7 linked regions of the Homo sapiens genome follow. The protein of the gene in region 1 interacts with the protein of each later gene in a pairwise test. Each region holds a gene or a part of one and is shown in the gene's direction. Other genes may lie near its edges.

What was found.
Region 2: the proteins of FBXL17 (region 1) and RLF interact in a two-hybrid assay, tested with the Homo sapiens proteins (one large-scale study listed by BioGRID).
Region 3: the proteins of FBXL17 (region 1) and PXYLP1 interact in a two-hybrid assay, tested with the Homo sapiens proteins (one large-scale study listed by BioGRID).
Region 4: the proteins of FBXL17 (region 1) and PSME4 interact in a two-hybrid assay, tested with the Homo sapiens proteins (one large-scale study listed by BioGRID).
Region 5: the proteins of FBXL17 (region 1) and TPP2 interact in a two-hybrid assay, tested with the Homo sapiens proteins (one large-scale study listed by BioGRID).
Region 6: the proteins of FBXL17 (region 1) and ACSBG2 interact in a two-hybrid assay, tested with the Homo sapiens proteins (one large-scale study listed by BioGRID).
Region 7: the proteins of FBXL17 (region 1) and TASP1 interact in a two-hybrid assay, tested with the Homo sapiens proteins (one large-scale study listed by BioGRID).

What each region holds. Positions count from the first base shown.
Region 1 is NC_000005.10:107,858,261-107,861,835, reverse strand, and holds the end of FBXL17 (F-box/LRR-repeat protein 17), read left to right. Parts: coding exon 1-116; 3' UTR 117-2,801; downstream 2,802-3,575. UniProt on the Homo sapiens protein: Substrate-recognition component of the SCF(FBXL17) E3 ubiquitin ligase complex, a key component of a quality control pathway required to ensure functional dimerization of BTB domain-containing proteins (dimerization quality control, DQC).
Region 2 is NC_000001.11:40,237,319-40,241,829, forward strand, and holds the end of RLF (zinc finger protein Rlf), read left to right. Parts: coding exon 1-3,129; 3' UTR 3,130-3,603; downstream 3,604-4,511. UniProt on the Homo sapiens protein: May be involved in transcriptional regulation.
Region 3 is NC_000003.12:141,283,272-141,287,782, forward strand, and holds part of PXYLP1 (2-phosphoxylose phosphatase 1), read left to right. Parts: intron 1-4,042; coding exon 4,043-4,182; intron 4,183-4,511. UniProt on the Homo sapiens protein: Responsible for the 2-O-dephosphorylation of xylose in the glycosaminoglycan-protein linkage region of proteoglycans thereby regulating the amount of mature glycosaminoglycan (GAG) chains.
Region 4 is NC_000002.12:53,918,690-53,923,200, reverse strand, and holds part of PSME4 (proteasome activator complex subunit 4), read left to right. Parts: intron 1-82; coding exon 83-152; intron 153-616; coding exon 617-684; intron 685-2,096; coding exon 2,097-2,312; intron 2,313-2,850; coding exon 2,851-3,008; intron 3,009-3,954; coding exon 3,955-4,050; intron 4,051-4,511. UniProt on the Homo sapiens protein: Associated component of the proteasome that specifically recognizes acetylated histones and promotes ATP- and ubiquitin-independent degradation of core histones during spermatogenesis and DNA damage response.
Region 5 is NC_000013.11:102,634,720-102,639,230, forward strand, and holds part of TPP2 (tripeptidyl-peptidase 2), read left to right. Parts: intron 1-867; coding exon 868-983; intron 984-1,504; coding exon 1,505-1,673; intron 1,674-2,362; coding exon 2,363-2,520; intron 2,521-3,519; coding exon 3,520-3,596; intron 3,597-4,511. UniProt on the Homo sapiens protein: Cytosolic tripeptidyl-peptidase that releases N-terminal tripeptides from polypeptides and is a component of the proteolytic cascade acting downstream of the 26S proteasome in the ubiquitin-proteasome pathway.
Region 6 is NC_000019.10:6,141,928-6,146,438, forward strand, and holds part of ACSBG2 (long-chain-fatty-acid--CoA ligase ACSBG2), read left to right. Parts: intron 1-4,511. UniProt on the Homo sapiens protein: Catalyzes the conversion of fatty acids such as long chain and very long-chain fatty acids to their active form acyl-CoAs for both synthesis of cellular lipids, and degradation via beta-oxidation.
Region 7 is NC_000020.11:13,390,700-13,395,210, reverse strand, and holds part of TASP1 (threonine aspartase 1 isoform 1 precursor), read left to right. Parts: intron 1-1,333; exon of another isoform or gene 1,334-2,597; intron 2,598-4,511. UniProt on the Homo sapiens protein: Protease responsible for KMT2A/MLL1 processing and activation. It also activates KMT2D/MLL2. Through substrate activation, it controls the expression of HOXA genes, and the expression of key cell cycle regulators including CCNA1, CCNB1, CCNE1 and CDKN2A.

The sequences.
Region 1 (3,575 bases):
TGGTGCAGCAGTACCCCCACATCACCTTCAGCACCGTCCTGCAGGACTGCAAGAGGACCTTGGAGAGAGCCTATCAGATGGGCTGGACCCCCAACATGTCTGCCGCCTCCTCCTAGCGCTCCTGCCTCGCCTAGTCCACTGGGATCATTCAGCAGAGCAGAGGAGAATTGTACATTTGGGGAGCTGATCTCTCGGAAGGGTTTTAACTGTCACCTGTCTGTGTGTGTTCAAGTATGTGTATTTGTGTCTTGTTTGCATACTGCATACCAAAAGTGCAGTTGTCATTTGTTCCCAAGTGAGCTGGCTTTTTTTCTTAGAAATTAAAGATTATGAAAGCCACAAACTTTTTAGTTTTTAACTTCAAAGGCTTCTTTCTCTTTAAAAAAAAATTATTTTTAATATAGAGTCAAAAAATTGGATGTATTATTTTGAGCTTCTAATTGCTGCCACTTGGAGATGTCCAAGTAAGAAGGCCTTCTTTTTACATGGGATGAATTGTGCACTTCTACTGATGATGACTACAGCAGAAGTGATGTTATACGTACAGGCACTTACACTCTCTCACATATTCACACGTGTGCACATCTACACCAGGGCTCTGATCTACTCTAGATCGTTTCCTGACAGAGAAGCCTTCTTCCAGGCCACTAAGGTAGCATGTTATCCACTGTGGCACTGCCTAACTCCGTGTATCCTCGGGTGGCCAACTTGCTATCTGGTGGGTGACTTGGGGACTAGAAAGAATAAAGCCTTTTCTAAATTTGTTATATAGAGGCAACAGTCTGAACTCTCCTGGCCAGCTCACGAAAGTTAATTATACATTATTCTACAAATGCATTCTGTTGAGCACTAAATATTTTAGTTGGTTTTATGTTAACATTGTGTTAGCTTTTATTTCCTGGATAGTAACTGGTCAGGATATATTTTAATGATATTTGAAACTAATCTTAGCATTGAAGCCACCAATGTAATTAATGGTGTGCAGTTATTTTAAAAACTACAGATCATTTCATTATTTTCTTAATTTTGGTAATTATTAAAGTCTATTTCTGAGATACGAGAGGGTAGTCACATTAATAGAAGATTCATGAGTGAGATATAAGTAGACAATCTTTCTACTGTTGTTGCTCTTTTTGCTTTGCTTTGGGTTCTTGAACAGGTTTTTTGGATATATGCATGTTGTCATTTTGGACTAGTTCTCATGCTACTGCAAAGATCTATTGCTAGCTAATATATGAGTTAAGAAAGAAAATTAGAAAATCTGTTCATTGAAATTCTGTTTACACTTGTCAGAAATAAGCATTTCTTTGTTTAATTAAGGATTGCCAGCTTCAGTTAAGACAAGACCTATCAGTAAATGAATATATGTTTTGATTTAACACATCTTTACAATTAATTCATAATAGGGACTCAGGCTCAAATAACTGTTCCTGTGTCTAGATTTATAATGAGGACATCAGGGAGCCTTTTTAAGCTAAAGAGTGATTATCTTTCACAGTAGAACTAGAAACAAAACCCTAACTTGTGAAGTTGCTATTTATTTTTCCCTGAGTGAATATAACTGTTATTTGGTCTTTAACAGATATACTGAGGTTTGAGTTTCACTTTCTTTAAGTCTCACATTGCTAACATGACATTAGCTGTAAGAAACAAGATAGCTTTACATTTGAATGCCATTTACTGATTTCTAATGATTCTCTTTTTTTGTAAACAACTGTTTCCTTTGATTATGTCAACATGTTTCTGATGTGGCATTTTTGTTTTAATCCCAATCGGTTAGGAAAATCTAGTCAGTAAGCGCCATGAGTATTCTTCCCATAACTAAATGGGTTTCTAATTTAATTTGAAGGGAATAAAATTTGTGTAAGAAAAAAGCTGTTTAACATTAATAAACTATATTTCTTCTTACACATTGAACTGTATCATTTTCATATCCACTTCCCCACCACTGAAATATCTTATTTCACAATATTTTAACTGATTTTTAATCCAAAACTAATTTATAAGACAGTATGTATAGTAATAGTAGCTTGAGTGAATATGCAAAAGTTTAATTTTTATATATGTCATACTATATTTTAAATAGTTAAAAAAGACAAAAGAAGGGAGAGCCATCTATGATATAGATGGTACCATTTCAGTTCAAAGTTGTAATAACCTTTGGAGTGTTACAGTTTGGTTGTCAAATGGTTTCAGAATGTATAATTGATTTTTTTAAATGTTGCATTGTTTGAATCTAAAGTACAGCACTATAACATGCTTTAGCTTGGGGGGGTGGGGGTGGGGTGGGGACTTGCACTTATTCTCTAAAATGTTGACTAATCCAGAAAGCCTGATGCAACATAATCTGGAAAACTGCTTTGGTACATTTGTAGAAATCCGTAGAAATACCATATCCAGCCTCAAAGCATTAATCTCAAAAAAAAAAAAAAAAAAAAAAAAAAACAGCCAGAAAAAAGCATCACCTTGAGTGGTCCTGTGATGGTTGTTGAATGTGTTCTCATTAGATGCTTTGAAATGAGGCTTAAAATAATTTTTCTGGGCAATATAGAGTTTCTTTTTTTTGCTTAGAATGTCATAAATACATGTGAACACGTTTAATGCAGGGCTTTTTATTCTCTCCAAAATGTCAACAGTATTTTCAGAATAAAGACTATGAAATATATTGCTGTAGTGGAAAATTCTGGTCCTTTGTCTTTAATGTCTTTTTGAGTGGATAAAGAAAATTCACCCGGTTTGTAGTTTCTATATTTCCGTGAATCTTTGACCTTGCAGTGGGTTGCAATAAAAGAGAAACAAAACACTGTGTCTTTTGTTTTATTTTAGAGACAATAAATGACCTCCCCAATGCTGGTTGGGTATGATGCATGCAGTGGTCTGTGTATTTCTGTGTTTCACTACAGACTTATGTAGGTTTGACTAACCCAGAATAATAAACGAGACTGAGTTTAGGAGGTTCTAATTGGGCTGGTGATTATAGAGATAAGATTAAAATCTCAAGGATTTACATAAGTGTGTATTAGTCCATTCTCATGCTGCTAAAAGGGTATACCTGAGACTGGGTAATTTATAAAGGAAAGAGGTTTAATCGACTCACAGAAAACTTAAAATCGTGGCAGAAGGGAAAGCAAACAAGTCCTTTTTCACAAGGTGGCAGGAGAGTGAAGAATGAGAACCAAGCAAAGGGAGAAGCCCCTTGTAAAACCATCAGATATCATGAGAACTTCCTCACTATCACAAGAATGGCATGGGGGAAACCACCCCCATGATTCCATTGCCTCCCACTGGGTCCCTCCCACGACACGTGGGGATTATGGGAACTGCAGTTGAAGATGAGATTTGGATGAGGACACAGCCAAACCGTATCAAATGAGTTGTTAAAATCCCATTTCCTAAATAGTCATCATTTATATAGCCATATATTCTATTTTTCCAAAGTAAATAAATTCATAAAACATTTATTGAGTGACAAATACGTATAGGCACTGGAAATTTAAAGATAAATGAACTCACTCCCACTCTCAAGTTACTCACAGCCTAACAAGGGGACATTGTGGGGCACTAGCAATAACAGT
Region 2 (4,511 bases), on another chromosome or scaffold:
GCAGAATCAGCTAATTCTCAAATAGATACAGAAACTGCAGAAAACCTGAAAGAAAACAGTGACAGTAATTCTAGTGATCAGTTAAGTCATAGCTCTTCAGCTTCAATGAATGAAGAGCTAATTGACACACTAGATCACTCTGAAACTATGCAGGATGTATTGTTATCTAATGAGAAAGTCTTTGGGCCCTCCAGTTTAAAAGAAAAATGTTCCAGTATGGCAGTTTGTTTTGACGGGACTAAGTTTACCTGTGGTTTTGATGGCTGTGGTTCCACATACAAAAATGCAAGAGGAATGCAGAAACATTTACGGAAGGTTCATCCATACCATTTCAAGCCCAAAAAGATAAAGACGAAAGATCTGTTTCCCTCTTTGGGTAATGAACATAATCAGACAACTGAAAAGTTGGATGCAGAACCTAAACCCTGCTCAGATACAAACAGTGACTCCCCAGATGAAGGTCTAGATCACAATATTCACATTAAATGTAAACGAGAACATCAAGGTTATTCCTCAGAATCCTCCATTTGTGCTTCTAAAAGGCCCTGTACAGAGGATACCATGTTGGAACTTCTGTTACGCTTGAAACATTTAAGCTTGAAAAACTCAATAACACATGGATCTTTCTCAGGGTCATTGCAGGGGTACCCATCCAGTGGTGCTAAGTCTCTTCAGTCAGTTTCATCTATCTCAGACCTTAATTTTCAGAATCAAGATGAAAACATGCCAAGTCAGTACCTTGCACAGTTGGCGGCTAAGCCGTTTTTCTGTGAGCTTCAAGGATGCAAATATGAATTTGTGACCAGAGAGGCTCTGTTAATGCATTATCTTAAAAAGCATAATTATTCAAAAGAAAAAGTCCTTCAGTTAACCATGTTCCAACATCGGTATTCCCCATTTCAGTGTCATATTTGCCAAAGGTCATTTACAAGAAAAACACACCTTAGGATTCATTATAAAAATAAACATCAAATTGGCAGTGACAGAGCAACTCACAAACTATTAGATAATGAAAAGTGTGATCATGAAGGCCCATGTTCAGTAGATAGGTTGAAAGGTGATTGTTCTGCAGAACTTGGAGGTGATCCCAGTAGTAACTCTGAGAAACCACACTGTCATCCTAAAAAGGATGAATGTAGTTCTGAAACAGATTTGGAATCATCTTGTGAAGAAACAGAAAGTAAAACATCTGACATTTCATCACCAATAGGCAGCCATAGAGAAGAACAAGAAGGAAGAGAGGGCAGAGGTAGCAGGCGAACTGTTGCTAAAGGAAATCTGTGTTATATTTTGAATAAATACCACAAACCATTCCATTGTATTCATAAAACTTGCAACTCCTCATTCACCAATCTAAAAGGCTTAATTCGCCATTACAGAACTGTACATCAGTACAACAAAGAACAGTTATGTTTGGAGAAAGACAAAGCAAGAACCAAAAGGGAACTTGTCAAATGTAAAAAGATATTTGCTTGCAAATATAAGGAATGTAATAAACGCTTCCTGTGTTCCAAAGCTCTTGCTAAGCACTGTAGTGATTCTCATAACCTAGACCATATTGAAGAGCCTAAAGTACTTTCCGAAGCTGGATCTGCAGCAAGGTTTTCTTGTAACCAGCCTCAGTGCCCTGCTGTTTTTTATACATTCAACAAGTTGAAGCACCACTTGATGGAACAGCATAATATTGAAGGGGAAATACATTCAGATTATGAAATTCATTGTGATCTTAATGGCTGTGGCCAGATTTTCACCCATCGCAGTAATTACTCACAACATGTATATTACCGACATAAAGACTATTATGATGATTTGTTTAGAAGCCAGAAAGTAGCAAATGAGAGACTACTAAGGAGTGAAAAGGTATGTCAAACAGCTGATACTCAGGGGCATGAACATCAGACCACCAGGAGATCATTTAATGCTAAGTCTAAAAAATGTGGCTTAATCAAAGAAAAGAAAGCCCCAATAAGTTTTAAAACCAGAGCTGAGGCCCTCCATATGTGTGTGGAGCACTCTGAGCACACACAGTACCCCTGCATGGTTCAAGGATGCTTATCTGTGGTGAAGTTGGAGAGCAGCATTGTGAGGCATTACAAACGCACTCATCAGATGAGTAGTGCCTATTTAGAGCAACAGATGGAGAATCTTGTTGTTTGCGTTAAGTACGGTACCAAAATTAAGGAGGAACCCCCTTCTGAAGCAGATCCCTGTATAAAGAAAGAAGAAAATAGAAGCTGTGAATCAGAGCGCACAGAACACAGCCATTCCCCGGGTGACAGTAGTGCACCCATCCAGAACACTGATTGCTGTCATTCAAGTGAAAGGGATGGAGGTCAGAAAGGGTGCATAGAAAGCAGCTCAGTATTTGATGCAGATACTCTGCTCTACAGGGGAACTTTGAAATGTAATCATAGTTCCAAAACCACTTCCCTAGAACAGTGTAATATAGTTCAGCCTCCTCCTCCTTGTAAAATAGAAAATTCCATACCTAATCCCAATGGGACTGAAAGTGGGACTTATTTCACAAGTTTCCAGCTGCCTTTACCAAGGATCAAAGAATCAGAAACTAGGCAGCATAGTTCAGGGCAAGAAAACACTGTAAAAAATCCAACCCATGTCCCAAAAGAGAATTTTAGGAAACATTCACAGCCCCGGTCATTTGATTTGAAGACTTACAAACCTATGGGATTTGAATCTTCATTTCTGAAATTTATTCAGGAAAGTGAAGAGAAAGAAGATGATTTTGATGATTGGGAGCCTTCAGAGCACTTAACATTAAGTAATTCTTCACAGTCCAGTAATGATTTAACAGGGAATGTTGTGGCAAATAATATGGTGAATGACAGTGAACCTGAAGTTGACATACCTCATTCTTCCAGTGACTCTACAATTCATGAGAACCTGACTGCAATCCCACCTTTAATAGTAGCTGAAACAACAACAGTTCCTTCCTTGGAAAACCTGAGGGTTGTATTGGACAAAGCATTAACAGACTGTGGAGAGCTTGCCTTAAAACAGCTTCATTATCTTCGGCCAGTGGTGGTTCTTGAAAGATCTAAGTTTTCCACACCAATTTTAGACTTATTTCCAACAAAAAAGACAGATGAGCTTTGTGTAGGAAGTTCATAAGTAGCAATTTTGTTTTAGTAACAGACTGGCTCCAACACTGCAACATGGGGACATTTGCCAACTCGAACAAAGGCTGAGAAGCAGCCACACCGTTGTTTAGGGTAGAATAGGCTGTGTATTTACATGAATGTATAATATCTATGTCAGCAGTATTGGCTGAGTCCATTAGCTCTCCAGTTGGTTTAATGATTGGGTTTATTTTTGTTTGTTTGTTTATTAAAAAAATGGAACTGTACACTTGTTTGGTGCTAATTAATACATCAAAATATACTGGGGCTTCCTTTTTCAAATTAAGTGTGCATGATTGTATATGGAACAAATACTAAGGTCCCAGGGTGGGAGGGCTAGGGAAAGGGATATGGAGTTCTTACTTGACTTGAATGTGCACCTGAGGGTGCTTTGTGTAATATATTGTACACTACAGCATCTTATATTTTTTGAGTTGAGTTTCAATAAATTACAATTTTTCACCCATTCGTTGTTTACTCATAATGAGCTTTCATGCCACATGTAAACTGAAATTGCACTTGTATTTTCTGAAATATGCCATTCACATTTTACCCCAGTAATTTTTTTATTTATTATTAGCTAAATCATTCAGAACAAGGTTCTTTTTTTTTTTTTTTTTTTTAAGACAGAGTTTCGTTCTTGTTGCCCAAGCTGGAGTGCAATGGTGCAGTCTCGACTCACTGCAACCTCCTCCTCCCAGGTTCAAGTTATTCTCCTGCCCCGGCCTCCCAAAGTGCTGGGATTACAGGCATGAGCCACCGTGCCCATCCCAGAACAAGGTTCTTTTTATCTTAAAATTTTTGTTTTTGTGGAAAGATAATTCTGAGATTAATTAGCTGCGGGAGTCAAGATAGCTCCCAGAGGATGTCCAGATGTTGGCCGAGTAGAAAGGAGAGGATATGCCAACCTAGAACATGAAGGACGTAGCAAATTCAGAGGGCATGTTTCTAGGAAACTACAAATAATTTGATATGCTGGCAATAAAAGGGGAACAAGAGAGTGACATCATTGTAGAGATAGCAGGAACTAAATCATGAAGACTAAGGAGTTTGGATTTGAGTCTATAGGCATATATCAGTTGAAGTGTGGAGTGCTCACTTGATTTGAGAAGCTGAAATTGGAAACAGTATACTTGAAGTAATTGAGGCAAGCTTGGTGAGTGTATTTACTGACAATTGCAGCAGAAGGCAGAGTAGATGAAGTATTTAAGGAGACAGGATTTTGGGGGCTTGGAGAGTGAAGGAAAAGATTTGGTACTGATGCAACCATTTTAAGTAGGTATACAAAGAAGGAATGAATATTTGGGAAGATAATGGAAACCAAGGTGAGTTTGGCTTTTAGATGTGTTGAGTTTCATTGGACTGTGGGATGTC
Region 3 (4,511 bases), on another chromosome or scaffold:
CTGCCTGGCCTAGTCTGTATAATTTTGCAGCTCAGGGGCACTGGCTTGCTGGGAAAAAGAGGTTTAGTTGAGAATCTTCAGCATGTTGATGGCATTTGAAGCTGTGGGCTTATATTACAGACAGAACCTGAGGAGTGAGGGATGGGCCAAAACCAGAGTCCTGGGAAGCACCAGCATGTGGTACTCAGAGAGAAAAAGGATTTCAAAAGGGGCCAGGGATGTTGCAAATGGGGAAAAGTCAGGAGAGCAATGTTATGAGAGCTAAGGAAAGCAGGGCAATGCATTACATCAAGTAAGACCAAAAGGTCCAGAAAGCTAAAAACAAAGAAAAGTACACTGGGCTTATCTTTTCATAATCTCATGTTATTAATATGTAAGATGATAAATTCTTTAATTGGCATGAACTTTAAAAATCTAATGTGATTCCAGTTTCCAGCTATGTATGCTCTTTTGGATTGTGTTTTCTGGTAACAGTGTCACTGGTCGTCTGCCTCTTCTGCTTGCCTTAACATTCTGTGCAGAACTCAGTCATTGCTGAGATTTTAAATAAACAATAAATGTTCTCATGGGTGTGTGGATTAGCCTTGGGGTTCAGCCTCAAACTTTGTGGCATAAATAGATGTGAATAATGCATATAAAAGTGAAGATAAGGACTCCAAAGTGAATGACTTGAAGGCTTAAGATAGTAACACTTTTGATTATTTCAGTTTTCATTATGAAAGCAGATTTTCAATGAGCCCACAATAATATGAGTTTTTCCTAAAGAAAAATTTATTTTCATGGATATAATTATGTCTGCATTAGTCAGGGTACACCTATTTTGTAAGTTTATTTTGTAGCACAGGGACTCATGAATGCATTACCTTAAATAACAAGGAAGTTTAGCTCTTCCTCATGTGAAGGTCTGAAATGTGTGTTCCAGATTGTGCTAGTCAGCTCCACCTGGTCATTCAGGGCCCCAGGTTTCTTCCAGGTTGTTGTTTCTACCATCCCCTGGGGATGGCTACATGGTTGAACCCTGGTTGCTGCCATGCCTAAATAATGGCTGGAAGGAAGGAAGATAATGTGAACCGGGCATACACATGATCAGAAAGCCTGAACCCAGAAGTGGCATACATCTTTCCGTTCTGTTGGCGAATGCGGCTTTACCTCATTTCAGGACCTCAGAAATAGGATCTAACCAAGTTCTTAAGAAGAGAATAGATTTTAGTGTACGACTAGTACACTAGTCTCATCCACACTAGCCTTTAGTTTTAATACAGTCATCCATAGAGGATTGGTTCCAGGATCCTCCTTGGATACCAGAATCTGAGATGCTCAAGTCCCTTATGTAAAATGGTGTTGTATTTACACAGAACCTGCGCACATTCTCCCATGTACTTTACATCATCTCTAGATTACTTATAACGCCAAACACAATGTAAATGCTGTGTAAATAGTTGTTATTTGTATTATTTTTATTGTTGTATTGTTATTTCTTATTGGGTTTTTTCCAAGTATTTTTGGATCCACAGTTGAATCTTCCAATGCAGAATCTGAAGAGATGGAGGGCCGACTATATTTTCATCAAAATCTGAATATTTTAACAAACCGTATGGGAACTTATCGTATTCATTTCTACAGATTATGGAAGGCTTGCTATTTTCATGAAACATCCAAGGATGGGACACTTCACAGTTGAATTCACTCACATATATTTTTAGAGCATCTGCTATGTGCTAAGCACCCTCTGGGCTCCAGGGATGGAGCAGTGGACCAGGCAGACAAGGCCTGGGTAGTCAGATCCAGGTCCAGGACTCGAGTTACCTGGTCTGCTTTCCACTAAAAAGATACAGCCATTTGTTGTCAAATGTTTTTTTTCTTTTTCTTTTTCTTTTTTTTTTTTTTTTTTTTGAGACAGGGTATCTCTTTGTCACCCAGGCTAGAGTACAGTAGTACAATCACAGCTCACTGCAGCCTCGACCTCCTGGACTCATGTGATCCTCCTGCTTTAGCCTCCTGAGTGGCTGAGACTATAGGCCTGCGCCACCATGCCTGGCTAGTTTTTGTATTTTTTGTAGAGACATGGTCTCACTATGTTGGCCAGTCTCAAACTCCTGGCCCCAAGCAGTCCTCCCACCTCGGCCTCCCAAAATGCTGGGATTACAGGCATGAGCCACCATGCCCGGCCTGTTAGCTATTCTTTAAATGAAGTTTTTCTTCCACAAATCTTCATCTTTGCATGCCAAAAACAAACAACACAACAACAACAACAAAAAAAAACAAAAATAAAAAACATTGGAATGAATGCAGTTAGATATCATTAAGCAGTCAGATGCCCTGAAAACCTGGGTCACCTCAGCAAACACTTCCAGTCATGAAATTCCATTTCTAAAATTGGCAGCAAAGCTTTCTCAGATCCTCAAAAAAAGCTCCAACCTGAAATAATGGCCTGGTGCAGAACATTTGACTCCTGTTGATGGATAGCCTTTGTTTATGTGGATTACTCTTGGCAGCCTCATTGTCAGTCTGGACATTTTATTTCCCAGTTTGCAAACATTTATGTGCTTTAGCCTCAGGCAAAATAACGTACCCTGTTTTTGTGGAAAGGCATAACTCCCTTTAGCTATCCAGGGTGATTTATTAGACTATATTACATGTCTGGATTAGTATTCTCTAATTTAAAAACGTATTTTTAAAAGATGGATTTTTTTTTTAGCTTTATGTTGTTGATAGATAATAAACCCATTTTGGCAGCCATTTTTAAAGCACTTTCAAAGTTAACTGGGCCTTCAGACAGCAGGGGTTTGCCATTAGAACAGTTTATCTTTGCTTCTTTTCATGCTGATTCTTATAGAGTTTAGGCATGAACTACTCTATCTGTCCACTTCTCTTCAGCTGGAAAATGTATATACATTCATAGGCTACTTCATTATTCAAAGAAAAGATGTTTATATTCATAGGTCATTTCATTATTCAGGGTAATTGTATATTAGTGACTAGAAAGATTTACCACATATACTTTGTGGCAGAAATATAGATACTCTCAGATCTCATATATAAACTTTTTTTGACATTTATTATTACCCTATATTAAATGAGAGGTTGTATGTCCAAAACGTGGAGTGGATTGTAAAGAGGTATAGAGATCCTGGTTATCTTATTCAGTTAACAATTTTCCTAAAGGGGGATTTTTCAGAGGTCAGAAAAATTAAGGATTATGGGTGACCTTGATAAAGGATAGGGTAGATTTTCTAGGAGGAAGGGATAGCTCGTGGGAAGTGGTGGAAGTGTTGAAGAATGAGGTGCGTTGTGTGTTGGAGGAAAGAAGGCCTTTGGCTTGGCGTGGCCAGAGCACAGTATTAGGGTAGAGAGGGCCAGTGAGTACCAGGGCGAGGCCAGAATAGAGGGACAGGCTGTGTGTGGCCCCTTCCAGAAGGTGGTGATAGGGAAGGGCAGTGACTGGTCAGAGTTACCTTTTAAATCAATCCTTCTGGTGGTGGAGAAGGCAAGATTATTAGAGGGGCATGCTTAATCAGCAAGAAGACCAATAAAGAGCCCATTGCCAGCCAGACAAAAGCTGCCTGAGGCCAGAACCTAGGTAGTAGCTGTGAGGATGAAGGAGAAGGGGATGGAGAAGCACCAGGAGAAAGAATCTGCAAGACATGGGGAGCAGACAGCATGTGCAGGGGCAGGGAATGGAGAGAGTGGGACGATGCCCAGCCTAGGCGTGACTGCTGGGTGGGTGTTGGCGGCCTCCCGGAGAGCGAGCCCGGAAGGCAGCACAGGTTGGGGAGCCGGAAGATAGACGGCGAAGCTGAATCCCACAGTACTGAGTTCAGCAGAGGTTAGGAACTCTGGCCAACCTCACAGAGGGGATTTCATGTGTCAGTGTCAGTGGTCGAGAAATAATGAAATTGGAACTGAAAAGTGATTGAGCCGGTACCTGTTACTGTGGGTGCAAAAGGCTGCGATACACGTGGGATTTGGCTCGCTGAAGCTGGAAACTGTTTGGATTCTTGTGGAGCACTCTGACCTCTAACTCTCTCTATCATCTCTCTAGGAAACCGTATCACCCAAAACTGGAAGCTTTCATTAGTCACATGTCAAAAGGATCCGGAGCCTCTTTCGAAAGCCCCTTGAACTCCTTGCCTCTTTACCCAAATCACCCATTGTGTGAGATGGGAGAGCTCACACAGACAGGTATGTGTGACCCCCATGCGCTCAGGGGTTCCCCCACCCGCTCTTCTGCTTGCATACCTTCCGAGCAGTTCTCCTGGGCGGGGTGCTGTGCAGCTCAGAGGGGGTAAGCAAGGACTGGCTCTGCAAGGAGCTCGGTCACCAGGGCCTCTAAATAAACATCAGAGTTCTCAAAACTAAATAGAACCTTTCTCCTTCTTACAAAAACAATACGTGTTCATGAAAATAATTTAGGAAAGACAAGTAAAAAGAAGAAAAAGTTTAAGCAACCGTAATTCCACCACAGAAATAGACCCTTAAGAGTAACCCTTCTTCCTGTGCTTATGCACACA
Region 4 (4,511 bases), on another chromosome or scaffold:
CAGCCTTTTACTGCCACTGAAAATATAATCTTGTATATATTTGCCTTTCAAAAAAGCCTTACTTATACAAATACATTTTCAGTGCTGCCCAGAAGAATCTTTGAAGCTCTTTGTTCCCCACTGCTGCAGTGTTATAACTCAGCTTACAATGAGTAAGTCATAAGGTCATTATTCTCTCTTTACAATTTTGGATAAGTTTTTTTCTTGGTTTCTAAAACTCTGTTAATGACAACAGATTCCTTTAGCTTCACAATATTTTGATTGGCAATTTGGGGAAAATTTGTCTCCAAAAAAGATATCATCCAGGTTGGCAGTAGCTTAAAAATGTTACTTTATTAATATTCTTATACAACCACCATTCAGAGGTTACCTTCAAAAATATCAGTTATTTTGTGAGATATAGAGGGGCAGAAGTCTTGGTTGGTGTGTTTATTTTCTTGAAAATTCTGTTTCTACCTCCTTTTGGAACAAGCTCAGCTTCATGAAGAAGAAATAAAAAGTCTTCCTAAAAGAGGTTTTCCTCAGCTATTGGAAATATTAAATAGAAGTATTTTAAAATGCTATATTTAGTTGAATGCATAGGTTTTTCCCCCTAATAGTATTTTGCTGTTTTTAGATGATGATGTATTAAATGATGAAGAGCTAGACAAGGAATTACTATGGAATCTTCAACTTTTGTCTGAGGTATTGTAAATCTTTGGAATAAGAAACATGACTGTGAAAACACTGACTTGCTTTTAGGATTTAGCTCTTTCTGACAAAATGACTTTAAAACATATGAAAAGTCAGAGTTTTGGAAATTTGATGAGGCTTCAGAAGATCAGAATATGTCATACTCTTATTGTCAAAGGAGTGGTGTAGTTGATCACTGCATGTTCAGCCATCTACTTAGTTTTACCAGTTAATTCTAATATGGGTAACTCATTAATTGAAAAAGTTGATCAGATTTGGGAATTTTTTTGGTCTACACTTTAAATTTGGCCATCAATCAAACTTCAGTTTTCTTTTCTTTTCTTTTCTTTTCTTTTTTCTTCTTTTTGTCTCACTATCGCCCACGCTGGAGTGCAGTGGTGCAATCTCGGCTCACTGCAAACTCCGCCTCCCAGCTTCACGCCATTCTCCTGCCTCAGCCTCCCAAGTAGCTGGGACTACAGGCATCCGCCACCACGCCCGGCTAATTTTTTGTATTTTTAGTAGAGACGGGGTTTCACTGTGTTAGCCAGAATGGTCTCAATGTCCTGACCTCGTGATCCGCCTGCCTCAGCCTCCCAAAGTGCTGGGGTTACAGGTGTGAGCCACCGCGCCTGGCCCAAACTTCAGTTTTCTTTTTTTTGAGACGGAGTCTCGCTCTGTCGCCCAGGCTGGAGTGCAGTGGCACGATCTCGGCTCACTGCAAGCTCCGCCTCCCGGGTTCACGCCATTCTCCTGCCTCAGCCTCCCAAGTAGCTGGGACTACAGGCGCCCGCCACTACGCCCGGCTAATTTTTTGTATTTTTAGTAGAGACGGGGTTTCACCGTTTTAGCCGGGATGGTCTCGATCTCCTGACCTCGTGATCCGCCCGCCTCGGCCTCCCAAAGTGCTGGGATTACAGGCGTGAGCCACCGCGCCCGGCCAACTTCAGTTTTCTTTATCATTTTTTTCAGAAGTTTAATTAGGGCCAGGCGTGGTGGCTCACACCTGTAATCCCAGCACTTTGGGAGGCCGAGGCGGGCGGATCACTAGGTCAGGAGTTAGAGACCATCCTGGCCAACATGGTGAAACCTTGTCTCTACTAAAAATACAAAAATTATCTGGGCATGGTGGCGTGTACCTGTAATTCCAGCTACTTGGGAGGCTGAGGCAGGAGAATTGCTTGAATAGAATAGACTCTTTTGAAAGGGATGTTACTATGGTGCATGAAAGCTTAAGCTCAGAAAATGTGTTTGATTTCAAAAAACAATTAATTATTAGAATGCAGTTAAAGTGACAATCCTAAAATTAATTAAAGTCATTTAGAGAAACACTAGGTTAGTGGCCAAACATTGAACTTTGCATTAATGATTGGTTCTTGTTCTTTTAACCAAAATATCTTCAACTATTTTTTCCCTCCTTTTAGATTACTCGAGTGGATGGAAGGAAGTTGCTTCTTTATAGGGAGCAGCTTGTAAAGATTCTCCAAAGAACCCTACATTTAACCTGTAAGCAGGGTTACACTCTGTCTTGTAACCTTTTGCATCATCTTCTCCGTTCTACCACACTTATCTACCCTACAGAATACTGCAGTGTGCCAGGTGGCTTTGACAAGCCTCCTTCTGAATACTTTCCTATCAAGGCAAGCATTTTCAGTACTTTAGGATTCAAGAATATGTTGATTTTTTGTTTTAAGGGATTCAAAGTGTTATTTTTTCTTGCATATGTTAGTTTTTTACTTTTAAGATAGATTATTGAAACTATTATTGGAATATGTGAAACTTGTGCTGTCTCACTTTGCATGGAACTGAAACTCTAGTTTTCTTTCCTATTGATATGTGAAACAACTTCGTATATATTCCTTATCTAATGTCTATAGTTCAATATAATTTTATTGCTAAACTAAGCCTCACTTAAACTCATCATCACTCTTACAGTATCACTCTTAGAGCAAACTCATATTATAATGAGTACTCTTCGGGGAGACTTTTTTCAGGAGTGATAACGAAGAGGCAGTAAGATGTTGTTTTCATGCTACTTTTTTGTATATCATTTGCTACCTTAGGTTTGGATTATGTGTACATTTTCTTTTAAATTTTAAAAATTGTGTATATGTATGTGGGTTTGTTGTTGTTGTTTTTAATTTCTCAACTTGCTGAGTAGATGCTGTTCTCTTCTAGGACTGGGGCAAACCCGGGGACTTGTGGAATCTGGGAATCCAGTGGCATGTTCCTTCTTCAGAAGAAGTGTCTTTTGCCTTTTATCTTTTGGACTCCTTTCTTCAGCCTGAGCTCGTCAAACTCCAGCATTGTGGGGATGGAAAACTTGAAATGTCTAGGTTGGTTTTATTTTATAATTAGAGTTATTCAGTTGCAGACTAAAGAAGTCTTTTTTGGCTTTATCTGTGGCATATCTCATGTATTAATTTTCAATTGTGTTTTGAAAATCTGCTATACATGTACTTAGAAAATCATTTAATATAATGTTGTATAACAGAAAATTTAACAACATTTAAACATTTTAAACCCAAAAATTGTGGGTTTCTTTTTCTAATTTTTTTTATTACCTTCTACTTAGCAATTTCACTTGTCTTTTGGAAGGTGTGTGTAGATATGCCTCCTTTGAAAGGAATGCCTGTTTTCCTAGACTCAGCTAAGATTTTATTGGGTTCTCAAAATTTTATTTTAAGAATTATTTTTATGAGATTTTTTTTTCCCTCTCCCACAGGTATTTAACAAGAAATAAGTATTTGAAACCATTAGACTTTCATAGTTTGAAAGTTTCTAAAATAATAGCAAGAAAATTAATGTATCAAACACCACAAATTTTTCATAAGCAGATTTAAGAATGCACTTGGAGAAAGAAGTGTGACTGACTAACATCAACTCTGTCGTACTCTGAACTGCTTTTTGGAAGTAAATGTTTAGTCCCATTTTTAAAAGATGGAATAAGCTGGAAGATCTTCTGTAGCATTATTTCCTCTTTTTGTTAGTGGCAGTGGTCTTTGGTAAAGGGATGCTTAAATTAACAGTTGTTTCACAAAGGGCAGTTAATTATTGTTACTTGTGATTTACTTAGAGCCTGTTTAAATGTAAGCAGGCATAGTGTTAGCAATAAATATATATTTAATTGTTCTTCACTGTTAAGTTGGTAAACTGAAGACATTTGCTATTTCTTTACCTTAATCATTTATATCCCCACGTGAGAAAACTTCTGTGCTAGGCTCTAGCAGGCTTATTAAATAGGGATTTGGAAATATGAAAATGTCTTTTTTTTTTTTCTAGAGATGATATTCTACAGAGTCTGACTATAGTGCACAACTGTTTAATTGGCTCTGGAAACCTCCTACCTCCGTTGAAAGGAGAGCCAGTTACTAACTTGTAAGTAAAAATAACTGTTTTCCACTTAACATATATTTTAAGTCTTAGTCACTTAATGAGTTATTGGTTTGTTGTTGTTATTGCTTTTATTTCTGTATCACTTTAACCTTTTTATTTGTCACTGTTAAGGTCAAAAATACCAGAGGTACAATTTAGATTTATAAACCTGAAGGCTTTATTCAGATTTTCACATGGTACCAGGATAGAATAACTTTAGGTATTAATTTTAAAATATCAAATGTGGAGATATTAAGTTAGTCTCTTAGTTTACTGAGTTAATTAAGATAAATGCTGTTCTTTTAAAAAGGAAAAATACTGCTTTGTTTTGACTGTAGCAAATGTTGATTCAGAATTTTGTAGCAAAAAACTTTAAAAAAAAAGATTTCTTCAATCTTATTCATTATGATTTTGAATTGGTTTTATGATTTTTTAAGTGCTTTTCAGAGTATTATTACTTCGAG
Region 5 (4,511 bases), on another chromosome or scaffold:
AGCCTGTGATGATGTACCACTTCAAGTGCTACATCCTTCTCTAGGTTGAGCCCACACTCTTAGGATGGATCCTAACATGACCCTCTTTCTAGTTCTCTTCAGCCTCACCAGGTATTTCAAGGCCTCTTGGCCTCCATCTTTGGGTGTACTGCACTCTGCCTCGAAGTCCTGTCTGCCATGTTGTGGCCTTGCAGACTCCTGTACATTCTCTAAGAGGCGGCTTATCTGTCAGTTCCTCTGATGTCTGACAATATCATCAATGTTTATGTGTTTAATGAGCTCTGGAGAGGACAAGAATGATACAGCACTCATCTTATGAATTGGTGGCCTCCATATTCTTCCCATAAAACAGTAATTCCCAACCTGGCTGTACCCTAGAATCATCTGAGAGTTGTTTAATAAATAACAATCTCTGGGACAGTCCTCAGAGATTCTGATTTAATTGGTCTGTCATGAGACCTCAGCATCTTTTTTGCTTGAGTTCCCCTGGGGTTTATAACATACAGTTGGGTTGAACACCACAGCCAACAGCCATCTTGTTTAACCCAGCAGTGTTTGAAAGAAAATGTCATTCACATGCTTTTAGATATCTGCTTTGTACGTTTATATTACGCCACAAAGCCCACACCAGTCTCTCTGCCCACCACATAATGAGAACACAGTGATTTTTGTGGAATGAAGCCTTCATGTAATGCAAGCAGTTTGAGTCAGACTGTTTAGTTCAGGTCTTCAAAAAAGATTTTAAAATGAGTGTTAGAACACAAGACATTAACACCAGAGGGTCTACAGGTGATCGATCATACTGGTGGGCGGCTAAGGTTTCAGATAGTGAGTGCTACACTACTTGTTTTTGTTTCTTAATTTTAGGTCTGAAAGCTAATAACATTGACTACACAGTTCATTCAGTCAGAAGAGCTCTAGAAAACACTGCAGTGAAGGCTGACAATATAGAAGTATTTGCTCAAGGACATGGTATTATTCAGGTATTGTTGCCTATATGAAAAATGGGTTGTAAAGCATCATTGAGATAATATCTTAGATATTATTGGGTAATATTTTGTTTTATAACAGTGATTCAGTATATCTGAATTATGGATTATATGGCCATAGAACTACAAGCAAAAAGGATACACAAACAAATTTTGTAGTTAAGACAAATCTGTTGCACTAAGATCAAGAAATGTAATAGATGGAGGCCATGTAGAGGTTAGAAATTCAAAGAAATCGAGGTCAAAAACTGGCCAATCATAACGGCATAGGGATTAGTTCCTAAATTTGGTCACTTGAGAATAACAGTGTGAATAGAGTGGAGTGGAAGATGTGACTGGTGTTGTTTCTAAAAATGTAGAATTGTCCTCTTAGTTGGGGTACTAGGTAGTTTTGAGAGGTGAATATAGACACTAACTTTTTGTTTTACAACTGAAATCAAATTGATTGGTAATTTGCAACAAAATATTTTTTGACCCAACCATTTATATCTTACCATGTATATTATTTTCACTAGGTTGATAAAGCCTATGACTACCTCGTTCAGAATACATCATTTGCTAATAAATTAGGTTTTACTGTTACTGTTGGAAATAACCGTGGCATCTACCTCCGAGATCCTGTTCAGGTGGCTGCACCTTCAGATCATGGCGTTGGCATTGAACCTGTATTTCCGGAGAACACAGGTCAGTAATAGGCTGGCAGTAAGCTGACGTATTCACATTTGCTGTTTGAATGAGTGGTATCATAATAAAGAATTGCTGTTTGGGCCAGTGTTGTGAAGAGAATACATGAATTGACAGTATGATTATTTTAAATCTTAGTCATAAGAGAAAATATTAGAGCAATTTGGGGTCCTTGTACAATGGCAATTTAGTTAGCATCTTAAACTACCAGGGAAAACAGTAGAATGAGCCTCAGTGACCCACAGCTTTATTAAATTGTGGATAATAAAATATCAAATTTCTTTTCCACTTTACCTACTTAGGTATAAGACAGAGCTTTCTGTTGAAGAATGAAAAGTAGAAGCAGTCTAGGAGAACTGCAGCTCGATTAGGTGTGAACAAAAATAATCATCGCTATTATCTGGCTGTCTTCATTTCAGTTGAATACTATGACCTGTGTGCAGTAATGAAAACATTCACTTAAACTCTTTATTTTAAGGTCATACCAGTGCTTGGTGAAAGTATAAATGAATCATGAGTAATCTAAATTGTAAGGAAGATTATTTGACTGTTTTATTTAAGCTGTGTTTTGGATGCATTTTACAGCCAACCAAACCAAGTCGCTAAATTTTTTTGGAAAGATGTAACATTTTTAAATGGAAAAAAGGAAAAAAATACTCATCTTTAATTTTTGGTCTTTTTCGTGCCAGAAAACTCTGAAAAAATATCCCTTCAGCTTCATTTAGCTCTGACTTCAAATTCATCTTGGGTTCAGTGTCCCAGCCATTTGGAACTCATGAATCAATGTAGACACATAAACATACGTGTGGATCCCAGGGGCTTAAGAGAAGGATTGCATTATACAGAGGTATTGATGTATCTTCATTTTTACTTTCTTCACTCTTTAAAATGTTTAAAAGGTTAAAAAAAAATCCAAAGTATATTTGCAATATATTGCTTTCTTGCTAAGAAATAACTAGACCTATCCATCTGCCAGGTTATTCAGTTCTTCTGGTGTGTCTATATTCATTTAAGCAGTGAGTTTCTAAAGAATCATATTTTGTCCTTGTATGAATAAGTAAAAGGAAAGAAGAGGTACAGCAGAACCTTTCAATTAGATCTCCCTCTAACTGGTGTTTTCTTTTGTCAGCTAAACAAAGCTGCAGTTGCTTGTTGTTGTTGTTGTTGTTGTTTTAAGAGACAGAGTCTTGCTCTGTTGCCCAGGCTGGAGTACAGTGGTGTGATCGTGGTTCGCTGCAGCCTTGAACTCTTGGGCTCAAGTGATATTCACACCTTAGCCTCCTGAGTAGCTAGGACTAGTGGCGTGCACCACCAAGCCTGGCTAAATTTTTTTATTTTTGTAGAGACAGGATCTCTCTATGTTGCCCAGTCTTGTCTTGAACTCTTGGCCTCAAGTGATCCTCCTGCCTTGGCCTCCCAGGGCTTTGGGATTACAGGTGTGAACCACCACACCCAGCCAGTTATACCTTTTAGTACTCAGATGAAGAAAGCATCTGTTAAACAAATAGTTGTAAACCAGGCATAGAATAGTATCACAACAGTATCTCCACATCTAAAGTTGTCTGTAGTACTAGTTTGAGCTAATTTTTCAGTTGGGAGTAATTAAAATGCACTTATTTTGTACCTGACGTCTCATTTTCCCATTTCAACTGGTCAAATGTTGCTATACATTTGTTTGGGCTGTTTGCTATTAATTATGTGACCTAGTGTCAGGAAATTGGTGTCAACCTCTGGTTAAGACCTTGATTAAAAGTAGATTGATTTATTCTGTCAGTAGTTTAGACCTTCCCCCGCTCTTTTAAACATTTGTTTATGGATATTGACACTTACCGATTCTTTTTTCAAGGTATGTGGCTATGATATAGCATCCCCTAACGCAGGTCCGCTCTTCAGAGTTCCGATCACTGCAGTTATAGCAGCAAAGTAAGTAACAGGTTACTCACAGCTTACTGGTACATCTAAGATTTTAATGACTATTCATGGAGTCTTGTGGACTTTTAATGATCACTAATACAGAACCAGGTAATGGGGATTTTGTCTTAGTTCTGCTCCCAGCTAGCATTTTTAGGTGTCATGTAGTCAGCCATACTGACTCTTGTGTGCTCTGAGAGTAACTGATGGCACCTGGCATCTGCCCTACCTCTGCATCAAAACTATTTCCACCACAGTCACTCTGAGCTCTGCATTGCCCAGTTCAGAGGATAACTCAGGCTTCGTCTGACCCGATCCCACTGTAGTATTTGACAATATTACTTCACTCCCCTCCATTCCTGCCCTTTTTGTCTCTGTCGTTTTTGGGATTTACTCTCTTCTCTTAATGCTTCCACTTTTCTAGTTATCTACTGTAGAAGCAGAAGTTAAGAAACTCTTAACTTCCCATCTTATTCCTCTGGAACCAAGGAAAAATCAGCAGATTATATTACTTCCTGCTTAAAGTATATCAGTGGCACCTCCAAAGGTCAAGTTCAAGCTCCTTAAAATAGCAAACAATGCTCCCTCACAATTATAGCCCTAGCCAGTGTTTCCTGTCATTCCGTACACCAAATTACACATTTTGGCCAACTCACTGATTTTGGCACTTGAGGATTCTCAGGATTTGTGCATGTGCACAGCTGATAACTTGGTTTCAATTTCCTGTCTCTTCAGTTAATGACCAGGTGCATTCCTGGTCATCCCTGGGTGAAGGGAGTCCCTTCTTTCTGCTTCGTGGCACATTTTACGTGCCCCTGGACAGACTTTAGCCAATATATTGTAATTTTTTATTTAACTTACACTCTTTCACTGTGAGCCCACCGAAGGCACAGAGACTACTGTTATACAGGATGTATAAAATAAATT
Region 6 (4,511 bases), on another chromosome or scaffold:
GCTATGTTCCCCAGGCTGGTCTTGAACTCCTGGGCTCTAGCAATCCTCCCACCTTGGCCTCCCAAAGTGCTGGAATTACAGGTGTGGGCCACCGTGCCCAGCCTAGGGCCTATTTTCTATTCTTGATAGGTTGTTGAGGTAGCAGGGCAAGTTGTTCACATAATTCAGAGCTCTGCTCTACTGGTGATGTGACACTGGGCAAGTCACTTGCTCTTTGGAGGCCTCATTTGCATATCTGAATGATGGGGGCATTGATAACAGCACCTCCCTGTCAGGTTGGTGAGCCCGAGTGGATAAAGTACCCAGGAATCATCCATGTAGATAGGGTGCGGATATGATCATAGTGATTTATTAACATTAGGCTATAATCATTTTACTGTCAGAGCTAAAGTCAAGGGACATGGTGACATCATAGACAGCTCTGATACCAGTGGGTTGGGGGAGGTCCCCAAACGCCGGTGGGACCTCGAACCCAGCCATTATCCAGGCTCTTGACACCATCGAGAGTGAATTCAAGAAACAAGTCAGAAAATAGTGAAAGTGGGCCGGGTGCGGTGGCTCACACCCGTAATCCCAGCACTGTGGGAGGCCGAGACAGGCGGATCACGAGGTCAGGAGATCGAGACCATCCTGACTAAGATGGTGAAACCCCGTCTCTACTAAAAAATACAAAAAATTAGCCAGGTGTGGTGGCGGGTGCCTATAGTCCCAGCTATTCAGGAGGCTGAGGCAGGAGAATGGCGTGAACCCGGGAGGTAGAGCTTGCAGTGAGCCGAGATCATGCCACTGCACTCCAGCCTGGGTGACAGAGCGAGACTCTGTCTCAAAAAAAAAAAAAAAATAGTGAAAGTACTGAGGTTTATGGCAAATAAAAGTACTTGCATTGCAAAGTACACATTCAAGGAGAGGGAGTGCAGGCGTGCTTGAAAGATAGCATCACACACAAAGGAGTTTGGGGATGCTACCTTTATGGGTCCAAAGGGTGGAATATTCATCTAAATCCCTAGAAAACTGGCCGGGCACAGTTCACATCTGTAGTTTCAGCACTTTGGGAAGCTGAGGCGGGCAGATTGCTTGAGGCCAGGAATTCAAGACCAGCCTGGCCAACATGACAAAACCCTGTCTCTCTTAAAACTACAAAAATTAGCCAGGTGTGGTGGCACATGCCTGGATTATAGTGAGTCTCAACTTATTGCAACCTCTGCCTCCCAGGCTCAAGCGATTCTCATGCCTCGGCCACCCAAACAGCTGGCATTACAGTCATGCACCACCGTGCCTGGCTAATTTTTTTTTTTTAACAAAGCGCCCCAAAGTGGGTGTCTGAAACAGCAGAAATGTATTGTCTCACAATTCTGGAGGCCAGATTACTGAGATGAAGGTGTGGGTAGTGAGGTTGCAGTGAGCCAAGATCACACCACTGCATTCCAGCCTGGGCAACAGAGTGAGACTCTGTCTCAAAAAAACAAAAACAAAAACAAAAACAAAAACAAACACCAGTCATTGGATTTAGGGATCACCCTAAATCCAAGATGATGCCATGATGTCATCTCAAGATCCTTCACTAAATCCACCTACAAAAACCCTGTTTCCAAATACGGTCACAGTCTGAAATTCTGGGTGGACATGAATTTTGGAGGTTCACCATGTAACCCACTACAGTCATTAAAATATCCCACAAGTGTCCAGGTGACACCTCCATGTTTTTGTCCAATTTAAAGCATCTCCACTCCCCCCTGCTTCAGGCTGGGGTCAGGAAGGCATGATAAGGTGCTCTTTGAGTTCCTAGATGCTCTTCTCCTCATCACCCCCATCTCCCCAGGTGGTTTCTTTGTGAGCTGGTGCTGACTCCCAGAGCTGATTAGCTCGGGAAAGTGGGGTTGAAGGGGGCCTGTATGAACTAGGCTTCCCTTGTTGTAAGTTGTTATGAGATTAATTGTGCATCTCCAATTCCTTTGTGGAAGTCCTAACCCCCAGGTGCTCAGAATGTAACCTTGTTTGGGAATAGGATCATTGAAGTAATTTGGTTTTTTTGTTGTTGTTTGGTTTTGTTGTTGTTTTTTTGTTAGTTAGTTTGTTTGTTTGGTTTTTGAGATGGAGTCTCGCTCTGTTGCCCAGGCTGGAGTGCAGTGGTGCGATCTTGGCTCACTGCAATCTCCACCTCCCGGGTTCAAGCGATTCTCCTGCCTCAGCCTCCAGAGTAGCTGGGACAACAGGCGCGTGCCACCACGCCTGGCTAATTTTTGTATTTTTAGTAGATACAGGGTTTCGCCATGTTAGCGAGGATGGTCTCGAACTTCTGATTTGAAGTGATCCACCTGCCTCGGCCTCCCAAAGTGCTGGAATTACAGGCACAAGCCACTGCACCCAGCCTACTGAAGTAATTAGTTAAAATGACGTCATGAGGTTAGGTCCCAATCCAATGTGACCAGTGTCTTTATAAAAGGAGGAAATAGAGACGAACCTGCACACACGGAGAATGTCATGTGAGGATCGAAGCAGAGTTTGCAGTGATGCACCTACAAGCCAAGGAATGTCAAGGATTGCCGGCAACCGCAGCTAGGAGAAAGTCATTGGTCAGATTCTCTCCCACAGCCTCAGAAGGAACCAGTGCTGCCTGCACCTTGATCTCAGACTTGTGGCCTCCAGAATTGTGAGACAATACATTTCTGTTGTTTCAGACACCCGGTCTGGGGCACTTTGTTATTGCAGTCCTAGCTAATTAATATATCAGTCATACCAGTGTCTGTTTTTTTTGTTGTTTTTTTCTTTTTCTTTTTTTTTCTTTGAGACAGAGTCTCACTCTGTCACCCAGGCTGGAGTGCAGTGGCACAATCTTGGCTCACTGCAACCTCTGCCTCCCGGGTTCAAGTGATTCTCCTGCCTCAGCCTCCTGAGTAGCTGGAATTACAGGTGCCCTCCAACCACGCCTGACTAAATTTTGTATTTTTAATAGAGACGAGGTTTCACTATGTTGGCCAGGCTGGTCTCGAACTCCTGACCTCAAGTGATCTGCCGGCGTCGGCCTCCCAAAAGTGTTGGGATTACAGGCATGAACCAGCCTGCTGTCTGTTGATGACTATCTGAACATACATCTCCAGTCCTTGGGTCCTACTACTGGCACCAAGCCAAGAGCCTTTAGAAGCCCATCTATGAGGCCCATGTCTAGTCAAGGGGAAAAAGTAGCATCCCGGCCGGGCGCGGTGGCTCATGCCTGTAATCCCAGCACTTTGGGAAGCCGAGGCAGGCGGATCACAAGGTGAGGAGATCGAGACCATCTTAGCCAACATGGTGAAACTCATCTCTACTAAAAATACAAAAATTAGCTGGGTGTGGTGGTGCCCACCTGTAATCCCCGCTACTTGAGAGGCTGAGGCAGGGGAATCACATGATCCCAGGAGGTGGAGGTTGCGGTGAGCTCGCATGATCCCAGGAGGCGGAGGCTGCAGTGAACTGAGATTGTGCCACTGCACTCCAGCCTGGAGATAGAGCAAGACTCCATCTCAAAAAAAAAAAAAAAAAGTAGCATCCCATCATAGGTGGATGTGCAATTTCCTTCCAACACAGCTGCCTACTCTACCATTGCCATCTACCACCTCCCCAGTAGACCAGGTTCAGTTGAACAAACGCAAGGTTACACACCCAATTCTCCAAGAGGGTCTCTTGGACTTTCTCTCACTTGCCCGTTACTGGGTGGTAGTGAGAAACACACAACAAACCAACAACTGTCTCCAGAGGAAACCCTGTTCTCTTCTTTCTCAGTGTCAACCCTTACTCATCCCCAAAAGAAGTGATAGATACAGGACCCCAAAACTGGTTTTGAATTGGTCCCTTTGCTAGTTCCATTTGGCTGATCTGGGTGATGTCGCTGTGACAGGCAACCCCCTCAACAACCCCCTCAACAACCTCAATGGCTTAACACAACACAAGTGTGTTTCTTACTCATGTTGTGTGTCTGGCATTGGGGGAGAGGGGCTACTTCTTCACATTTGCTCCACCATTTTTGTGACAGGACAATGGACGATGGGGAATTATGCACCGGGTCTTAAATCTTCTCCCCATGAACGACACACATAACTCACTTCTTATGTTTCATTGGCCAAAGCATACATAGTCCACTGCATGTACATTTTACCTTTAAAAAAATCTCCGTAAATAATATTAAATATGTGACTCTTGTTAATGATTTACATGCAAGGGTGTTTAAGGGTAAATGGATGAATAGCTTTGGCTCACTTGGAAATGCATCAAAAAATCAGATGGAGCCAGGCGCGGTGGCTCATGCCTGTAATCCCGGCACTTTGGGAGGCCGAGGCAGGTGGATCACTTGACGTCAGGAGTTCGAGACCAGCCTGGGCTACATGGTGAAACCCCATCTCTACTAAAAATACAAAAATTAGCCAGATGTGGTGGCGGGTGCCTGTAATCCCAGCTACTCGGCAGGTTGAGGCAGAAGAATCGCTTGAACCTGGGAGGTGTAGGTCGGGGTGAGCCAAGATCACGCCACTGCACTC
Region 7 (4,511 bases), on another chromosome or scaffold:
CTATACAACAAATGGACAAGACTCAAGGGCCCCCATTTGACTGCTGTTTAAGTTGCTCATGCCTCCAATGATCTCTCTCTGGAAGAGGACTTTTAAAATTAAGTTGTGTGCAGTTTTCCTAGAAACCATACAAGAGCAGTTTCTAAGGTGGTCTTGGAAGATCTTAACATTGAGTATGAATGACAGGAAATTTTAGCTACTACTTAGATTGTGATTAGGTTATCAGGCAATTATATACTTTCTATATTACTTTTCTCTTAATTTTCTTATTTTAAAATCTTCGAGCTAAATTTGTTAATCCATTGTATTTGGTTTTATAAAAAGATATAGCCCTAATATTGGCTTTGAACAGTCAGTTTAATTTATAAGTTGATAGTTTTTCAAGGGGTGTTAACCTCAAGAATCTGTCTGTGCTTCTTAGGGAATTAGCAAGAAAGCGGCAAATTATAACTACACGGCCAGTGGATCCCATTGGTGTGGAGCTGTTTGCATCTGAGAATCTAAAGCTCCATCTCTATTCTAACAGTGCCATCAACTGGAAAGTGGAAAATTTTAGTTAGTCTATACTTTAAAAAAAAAACAAAGTTTCTTTTTTTTTTGAGATAGAGTCTCGCTCTGTCGCCCAGGCTGGAATGCAGTGGCGCGATCTTGGCTTACTGCAAGCTCCGCCTCCAGGGTTCACACCATTCTCCAGCCTCAGCCTCCCGAATAGCTGGGACTACAGGTGCCTGCCACCACGTCCGGCTAATTTTTTTTGTATTTTTAGTAGAGACGGGGTTTCACCATGTTAGCCAGGATGGTCTCAAACTCCTGACCTCGTGATCCGCCCGCCTTGGCCTCCCAAAGTGCTGGGATTACAGGCGTGAGCTACCGCACCAGGCCTTTTTTTTTTTTTTTTTTTTTGAGAGGGAGTGCTGTAGTGCAGTGGCACGAGGTTGGCTCACTGCACTGGAGTGCAGTGGAGTGCAGTGAGAGGTTGGCTCACTGCAACCTCTGCCTCCTGGGTTCAAGCGATTCTCCTGCCTCAGCCTCCGGAGTAGCTGGGATTACAGGCATGCACCACCACACCCAGCTAATTTTTTTTGTATTTTTAGTAGAGGTGGGGTTTCGCCCTGTTGGCCAGGCTGGTCTCGAACTCCTGACCTCGGGGGATCCGCCTGCCTCAGCCTCCCAAAGTGCTAGGATTACAGGCGTGAGCCACCACGCCCGTCCAAAAAAATCTAAGATTAATCTTTACTATGGCAAACTAGTATGATTCACTTTTCAGCCAAACAGATTGGTCATATCAGTTAAAACACTTAAAATTCTTTTCCCCCCCACACCTTTTTTTTTTTGGCTGAGCGCAGGGGACTTTATTCATGGTATACAACAGGGTGGGGCTCCCTAGGCCCCTCCCTCTTCAGGGTGTCTGCATGGACATTGTGAGGAGGGGAGATTCTCAGTGTGGTAGGGGACTGAGTGTGGGCAGGGACTCCCAGCAGCTGAGGGCCTCTCTCTTCCTTTCATGCTGTCGCTGGGGCTGGTGGTCCAGGGGTCTTATTCCTTGGAGGCCATGTGGGCCATGAGGTCCACCACCATATTGCTGTAGCCAAATTCGTTGTCACACCAGGAAATGAGCTTGACAAGGTGGTTGTTGAGGGCATTGCCAGCCCCAGCATGGAAGATGGAAGAGTGGGTATCACTGTTGGAGGAGACAATCTGGTGCTCAGTGTAGTCCAGGATGCCCTTGAGGGGGCCCTCTGACACCTGCTTCACCACCTTCTTGATATCATCATATTTGGCAGGTTTCTCCAGACGGTAGGTCAGGTCCATAACTGACACATTGGCAATGGGGACATGGAAGGCCATGCCATTGAGCTTCCTGTTCAGCTCGGGGATGACCTTGCCCACAGCCTTGGCAGTGCCAGTAGATGCAGGGATGATGTTCTGGAGAGCCACACAGCCCTCATGCCACAGTTTCCCGGAGGGGCCATCCACAGTCTTCTGGGTGGCAGTGATAGCGTGGACTGTGGTCATGAATCCTTCCATGATACCAAAGTTGTCATAGATGGCTTTGGCCAGGGGTGCTAAGCAGTTGGTGGTACAGGAGGCATTGCTGACGATCTTGAGACTGTTGTCATACTTCTCATGGTTCATGCCTATATAAACATGGGGGCCTCAGCAGAGGCAGCAGAGATGATGACCCTTTTGGCTCCCTGCTGCAAGTGAGCTCCAGCCTTCTCCATGGTCGTGAAGATACTGGTGGGCTCCATAATGTACTCAGCACCAGCATGGCCCCATTTGATTTTGGTGGGATCTCACTCCTGAAAGATGCTGATGGGATTTCCATTGATGACAAGCTTCCCATTCTCAGCCTTGATGGTGCCATGGGATTTGCCATGGGTGGAATCATATGGGAACATGTAGACTATGTAGTTGAGGTCAAGGAAGGGGTCACTGATGGTGAGAACATCTGCTTTACCAGAGTTAAAAGCAGCCCTGGTGACCAGCGCCCGATACTGCCAAATCTTTTTACTTTGGCCTTCACCTTCACCAGGGATGTGGCTAGCACTGCATGAGAAGATGCGGCTGTCTCTTGAATGGCAGGAGCAGGGTGCCTTAAGATTCTGCATGTTTACATAAACATAGCCCTAGAATGGTCTATTTCAGTCATTTACCCACTCAGCATTTCCGGAGTAGTATGCTTCTGTGTGAAACACATGGTCAGGTACAGGGAAACTGAGATGTATGTAACAAAGCTTCTGCCCAAAACCGACTTTCAATTACAGAAACCTAAAGATTCAAAACCAAGACTGGATGAGAAATGCTCATATGGGTGCTATAGGAGCTAAAAGAAGAACTTCTAAGTTGAGTTGGGTGCCTGGTCAAGGCTTCCCTTGAGAAAAAGCCAGAGACATGGTATCACAGAGAGATGTATGAGCAGGGCATGTAGCAAGGAGTGGAGGGAGATGACCCAAAATAGATGTCTGCTGCTTTTTCATGTATCATTTTAATGTGTTATTTCCCATTAGTTCCAAATTCCAATAAAAATGCATTGCTATTTAAATATTGTAAAGGTACTTTGTTAAGTTCTTCTGCTTGTAGGATACTCTAGAGTCTACACAGTCCTTGGACACTTGCTCAGTGTAAAACAGTTTATTGCATTTTTTATGCTGACATCCAAGTTTGTTGCAGAAAGTGGTCTGTTTTTAGGCTAAAGAGAAATTTAAGCTCACTTCTTTCTTTCTTTTTTTTTTTTTTTTTGAGACGGAGTCTCGCTCTGTCGCCCAGGCTCGAGTGCAGTGGCGTGATCTCGGCTCACTTCAAGCTCCACCTCCCAGGTTCATGCCATTCTCCTGCCTCAGCCTCCCAAGTAGCTGGGACTACAGGCGCCTGCCACCACGCCTGGCTAATTTTTTTGCATTTTTAGTAGAGACAGGGTTTCACCATGTTGGCCAGGATGGTCTCTATCTCCTGACCTCGTGATCTGCCCGCCTCGGCCTCCCAAAGTGCTGGGATTACAAGCGTGAGCCACCACGCCCGGCCTAAGCTCACTTCTTTCAAAAAGAACTCTGGAGATAAGCTCATATAAAACATTTTCTTAAACGGCTCCCACTGTTTATATGATTTGATGCCCCATTGAGATCTCCACAGGAAGCTTCAAACACATCTTGGCTCACACTTTTTCAGACCAAGGTTCTTGTCTTCTGATGAGACTCACCATGTTTCAGTACTTAGGAAAAGCTCGTTTAGAGAACAAGTAGAGAGGATTGCGTGAAGTTTATGCAGCCCCTCTTTCTTCTTAGAAATTCCAGACATTTATCTATCCTTGGATTAAGCCAGATCACCAAAAAGAGGAATTCTTGGCTGACCTCATCCTGACCCCTCATGAAACAGAGTGAAGTGCTTACTGTCTTCTACCGGAGCCTCCAGCCCCAGCCTCCTCTGAGTGATGTTGTAACACTCAGCCCTACAAAACTCCCTGTTGTATAGCTGATGTCTTCACTCAGTCACTAAACACAGTGCCCTCTTTACAAAGACTATAGGAGAAATGGCTCCTTGGTCTCAGTGCCAGGAACAATTGTTCTCATCCAAGCAGTGGGTTTGCTGTGATCTTTATGCTACATGAACCACCTACCTGATCTCTGCTGCTAGGAAACTGAGAGACAGGGCAGCAGGCTTGCCTCTGGCACGGGTACCAAACTCCTCAGCTTAGATTTCTTCGTTGGCCCCACTTCCGTCTTTACCTTATTTTGTAAGCTCTTATTTTTCTTCTCATTTCCTCTCCTACTTTAGGCTATTGAATTATCTGAGTTTTTGTAAGCTACTGAAATTCTTTAAGGAATAAATTTGGGATATAAACATGAATTAAGTATCCTTAGTTACTCTGTTTAGAAGACAAAACATATACAAATTACTAGTTTTCACATAATGACTATACTCAATAGAGCTGGCATTAAAACTGCTACTCTTGTGAATATAATTAAACTATACATTCTGTGCGGTCAGGGGTCTTGGCTAACTTGGTCACC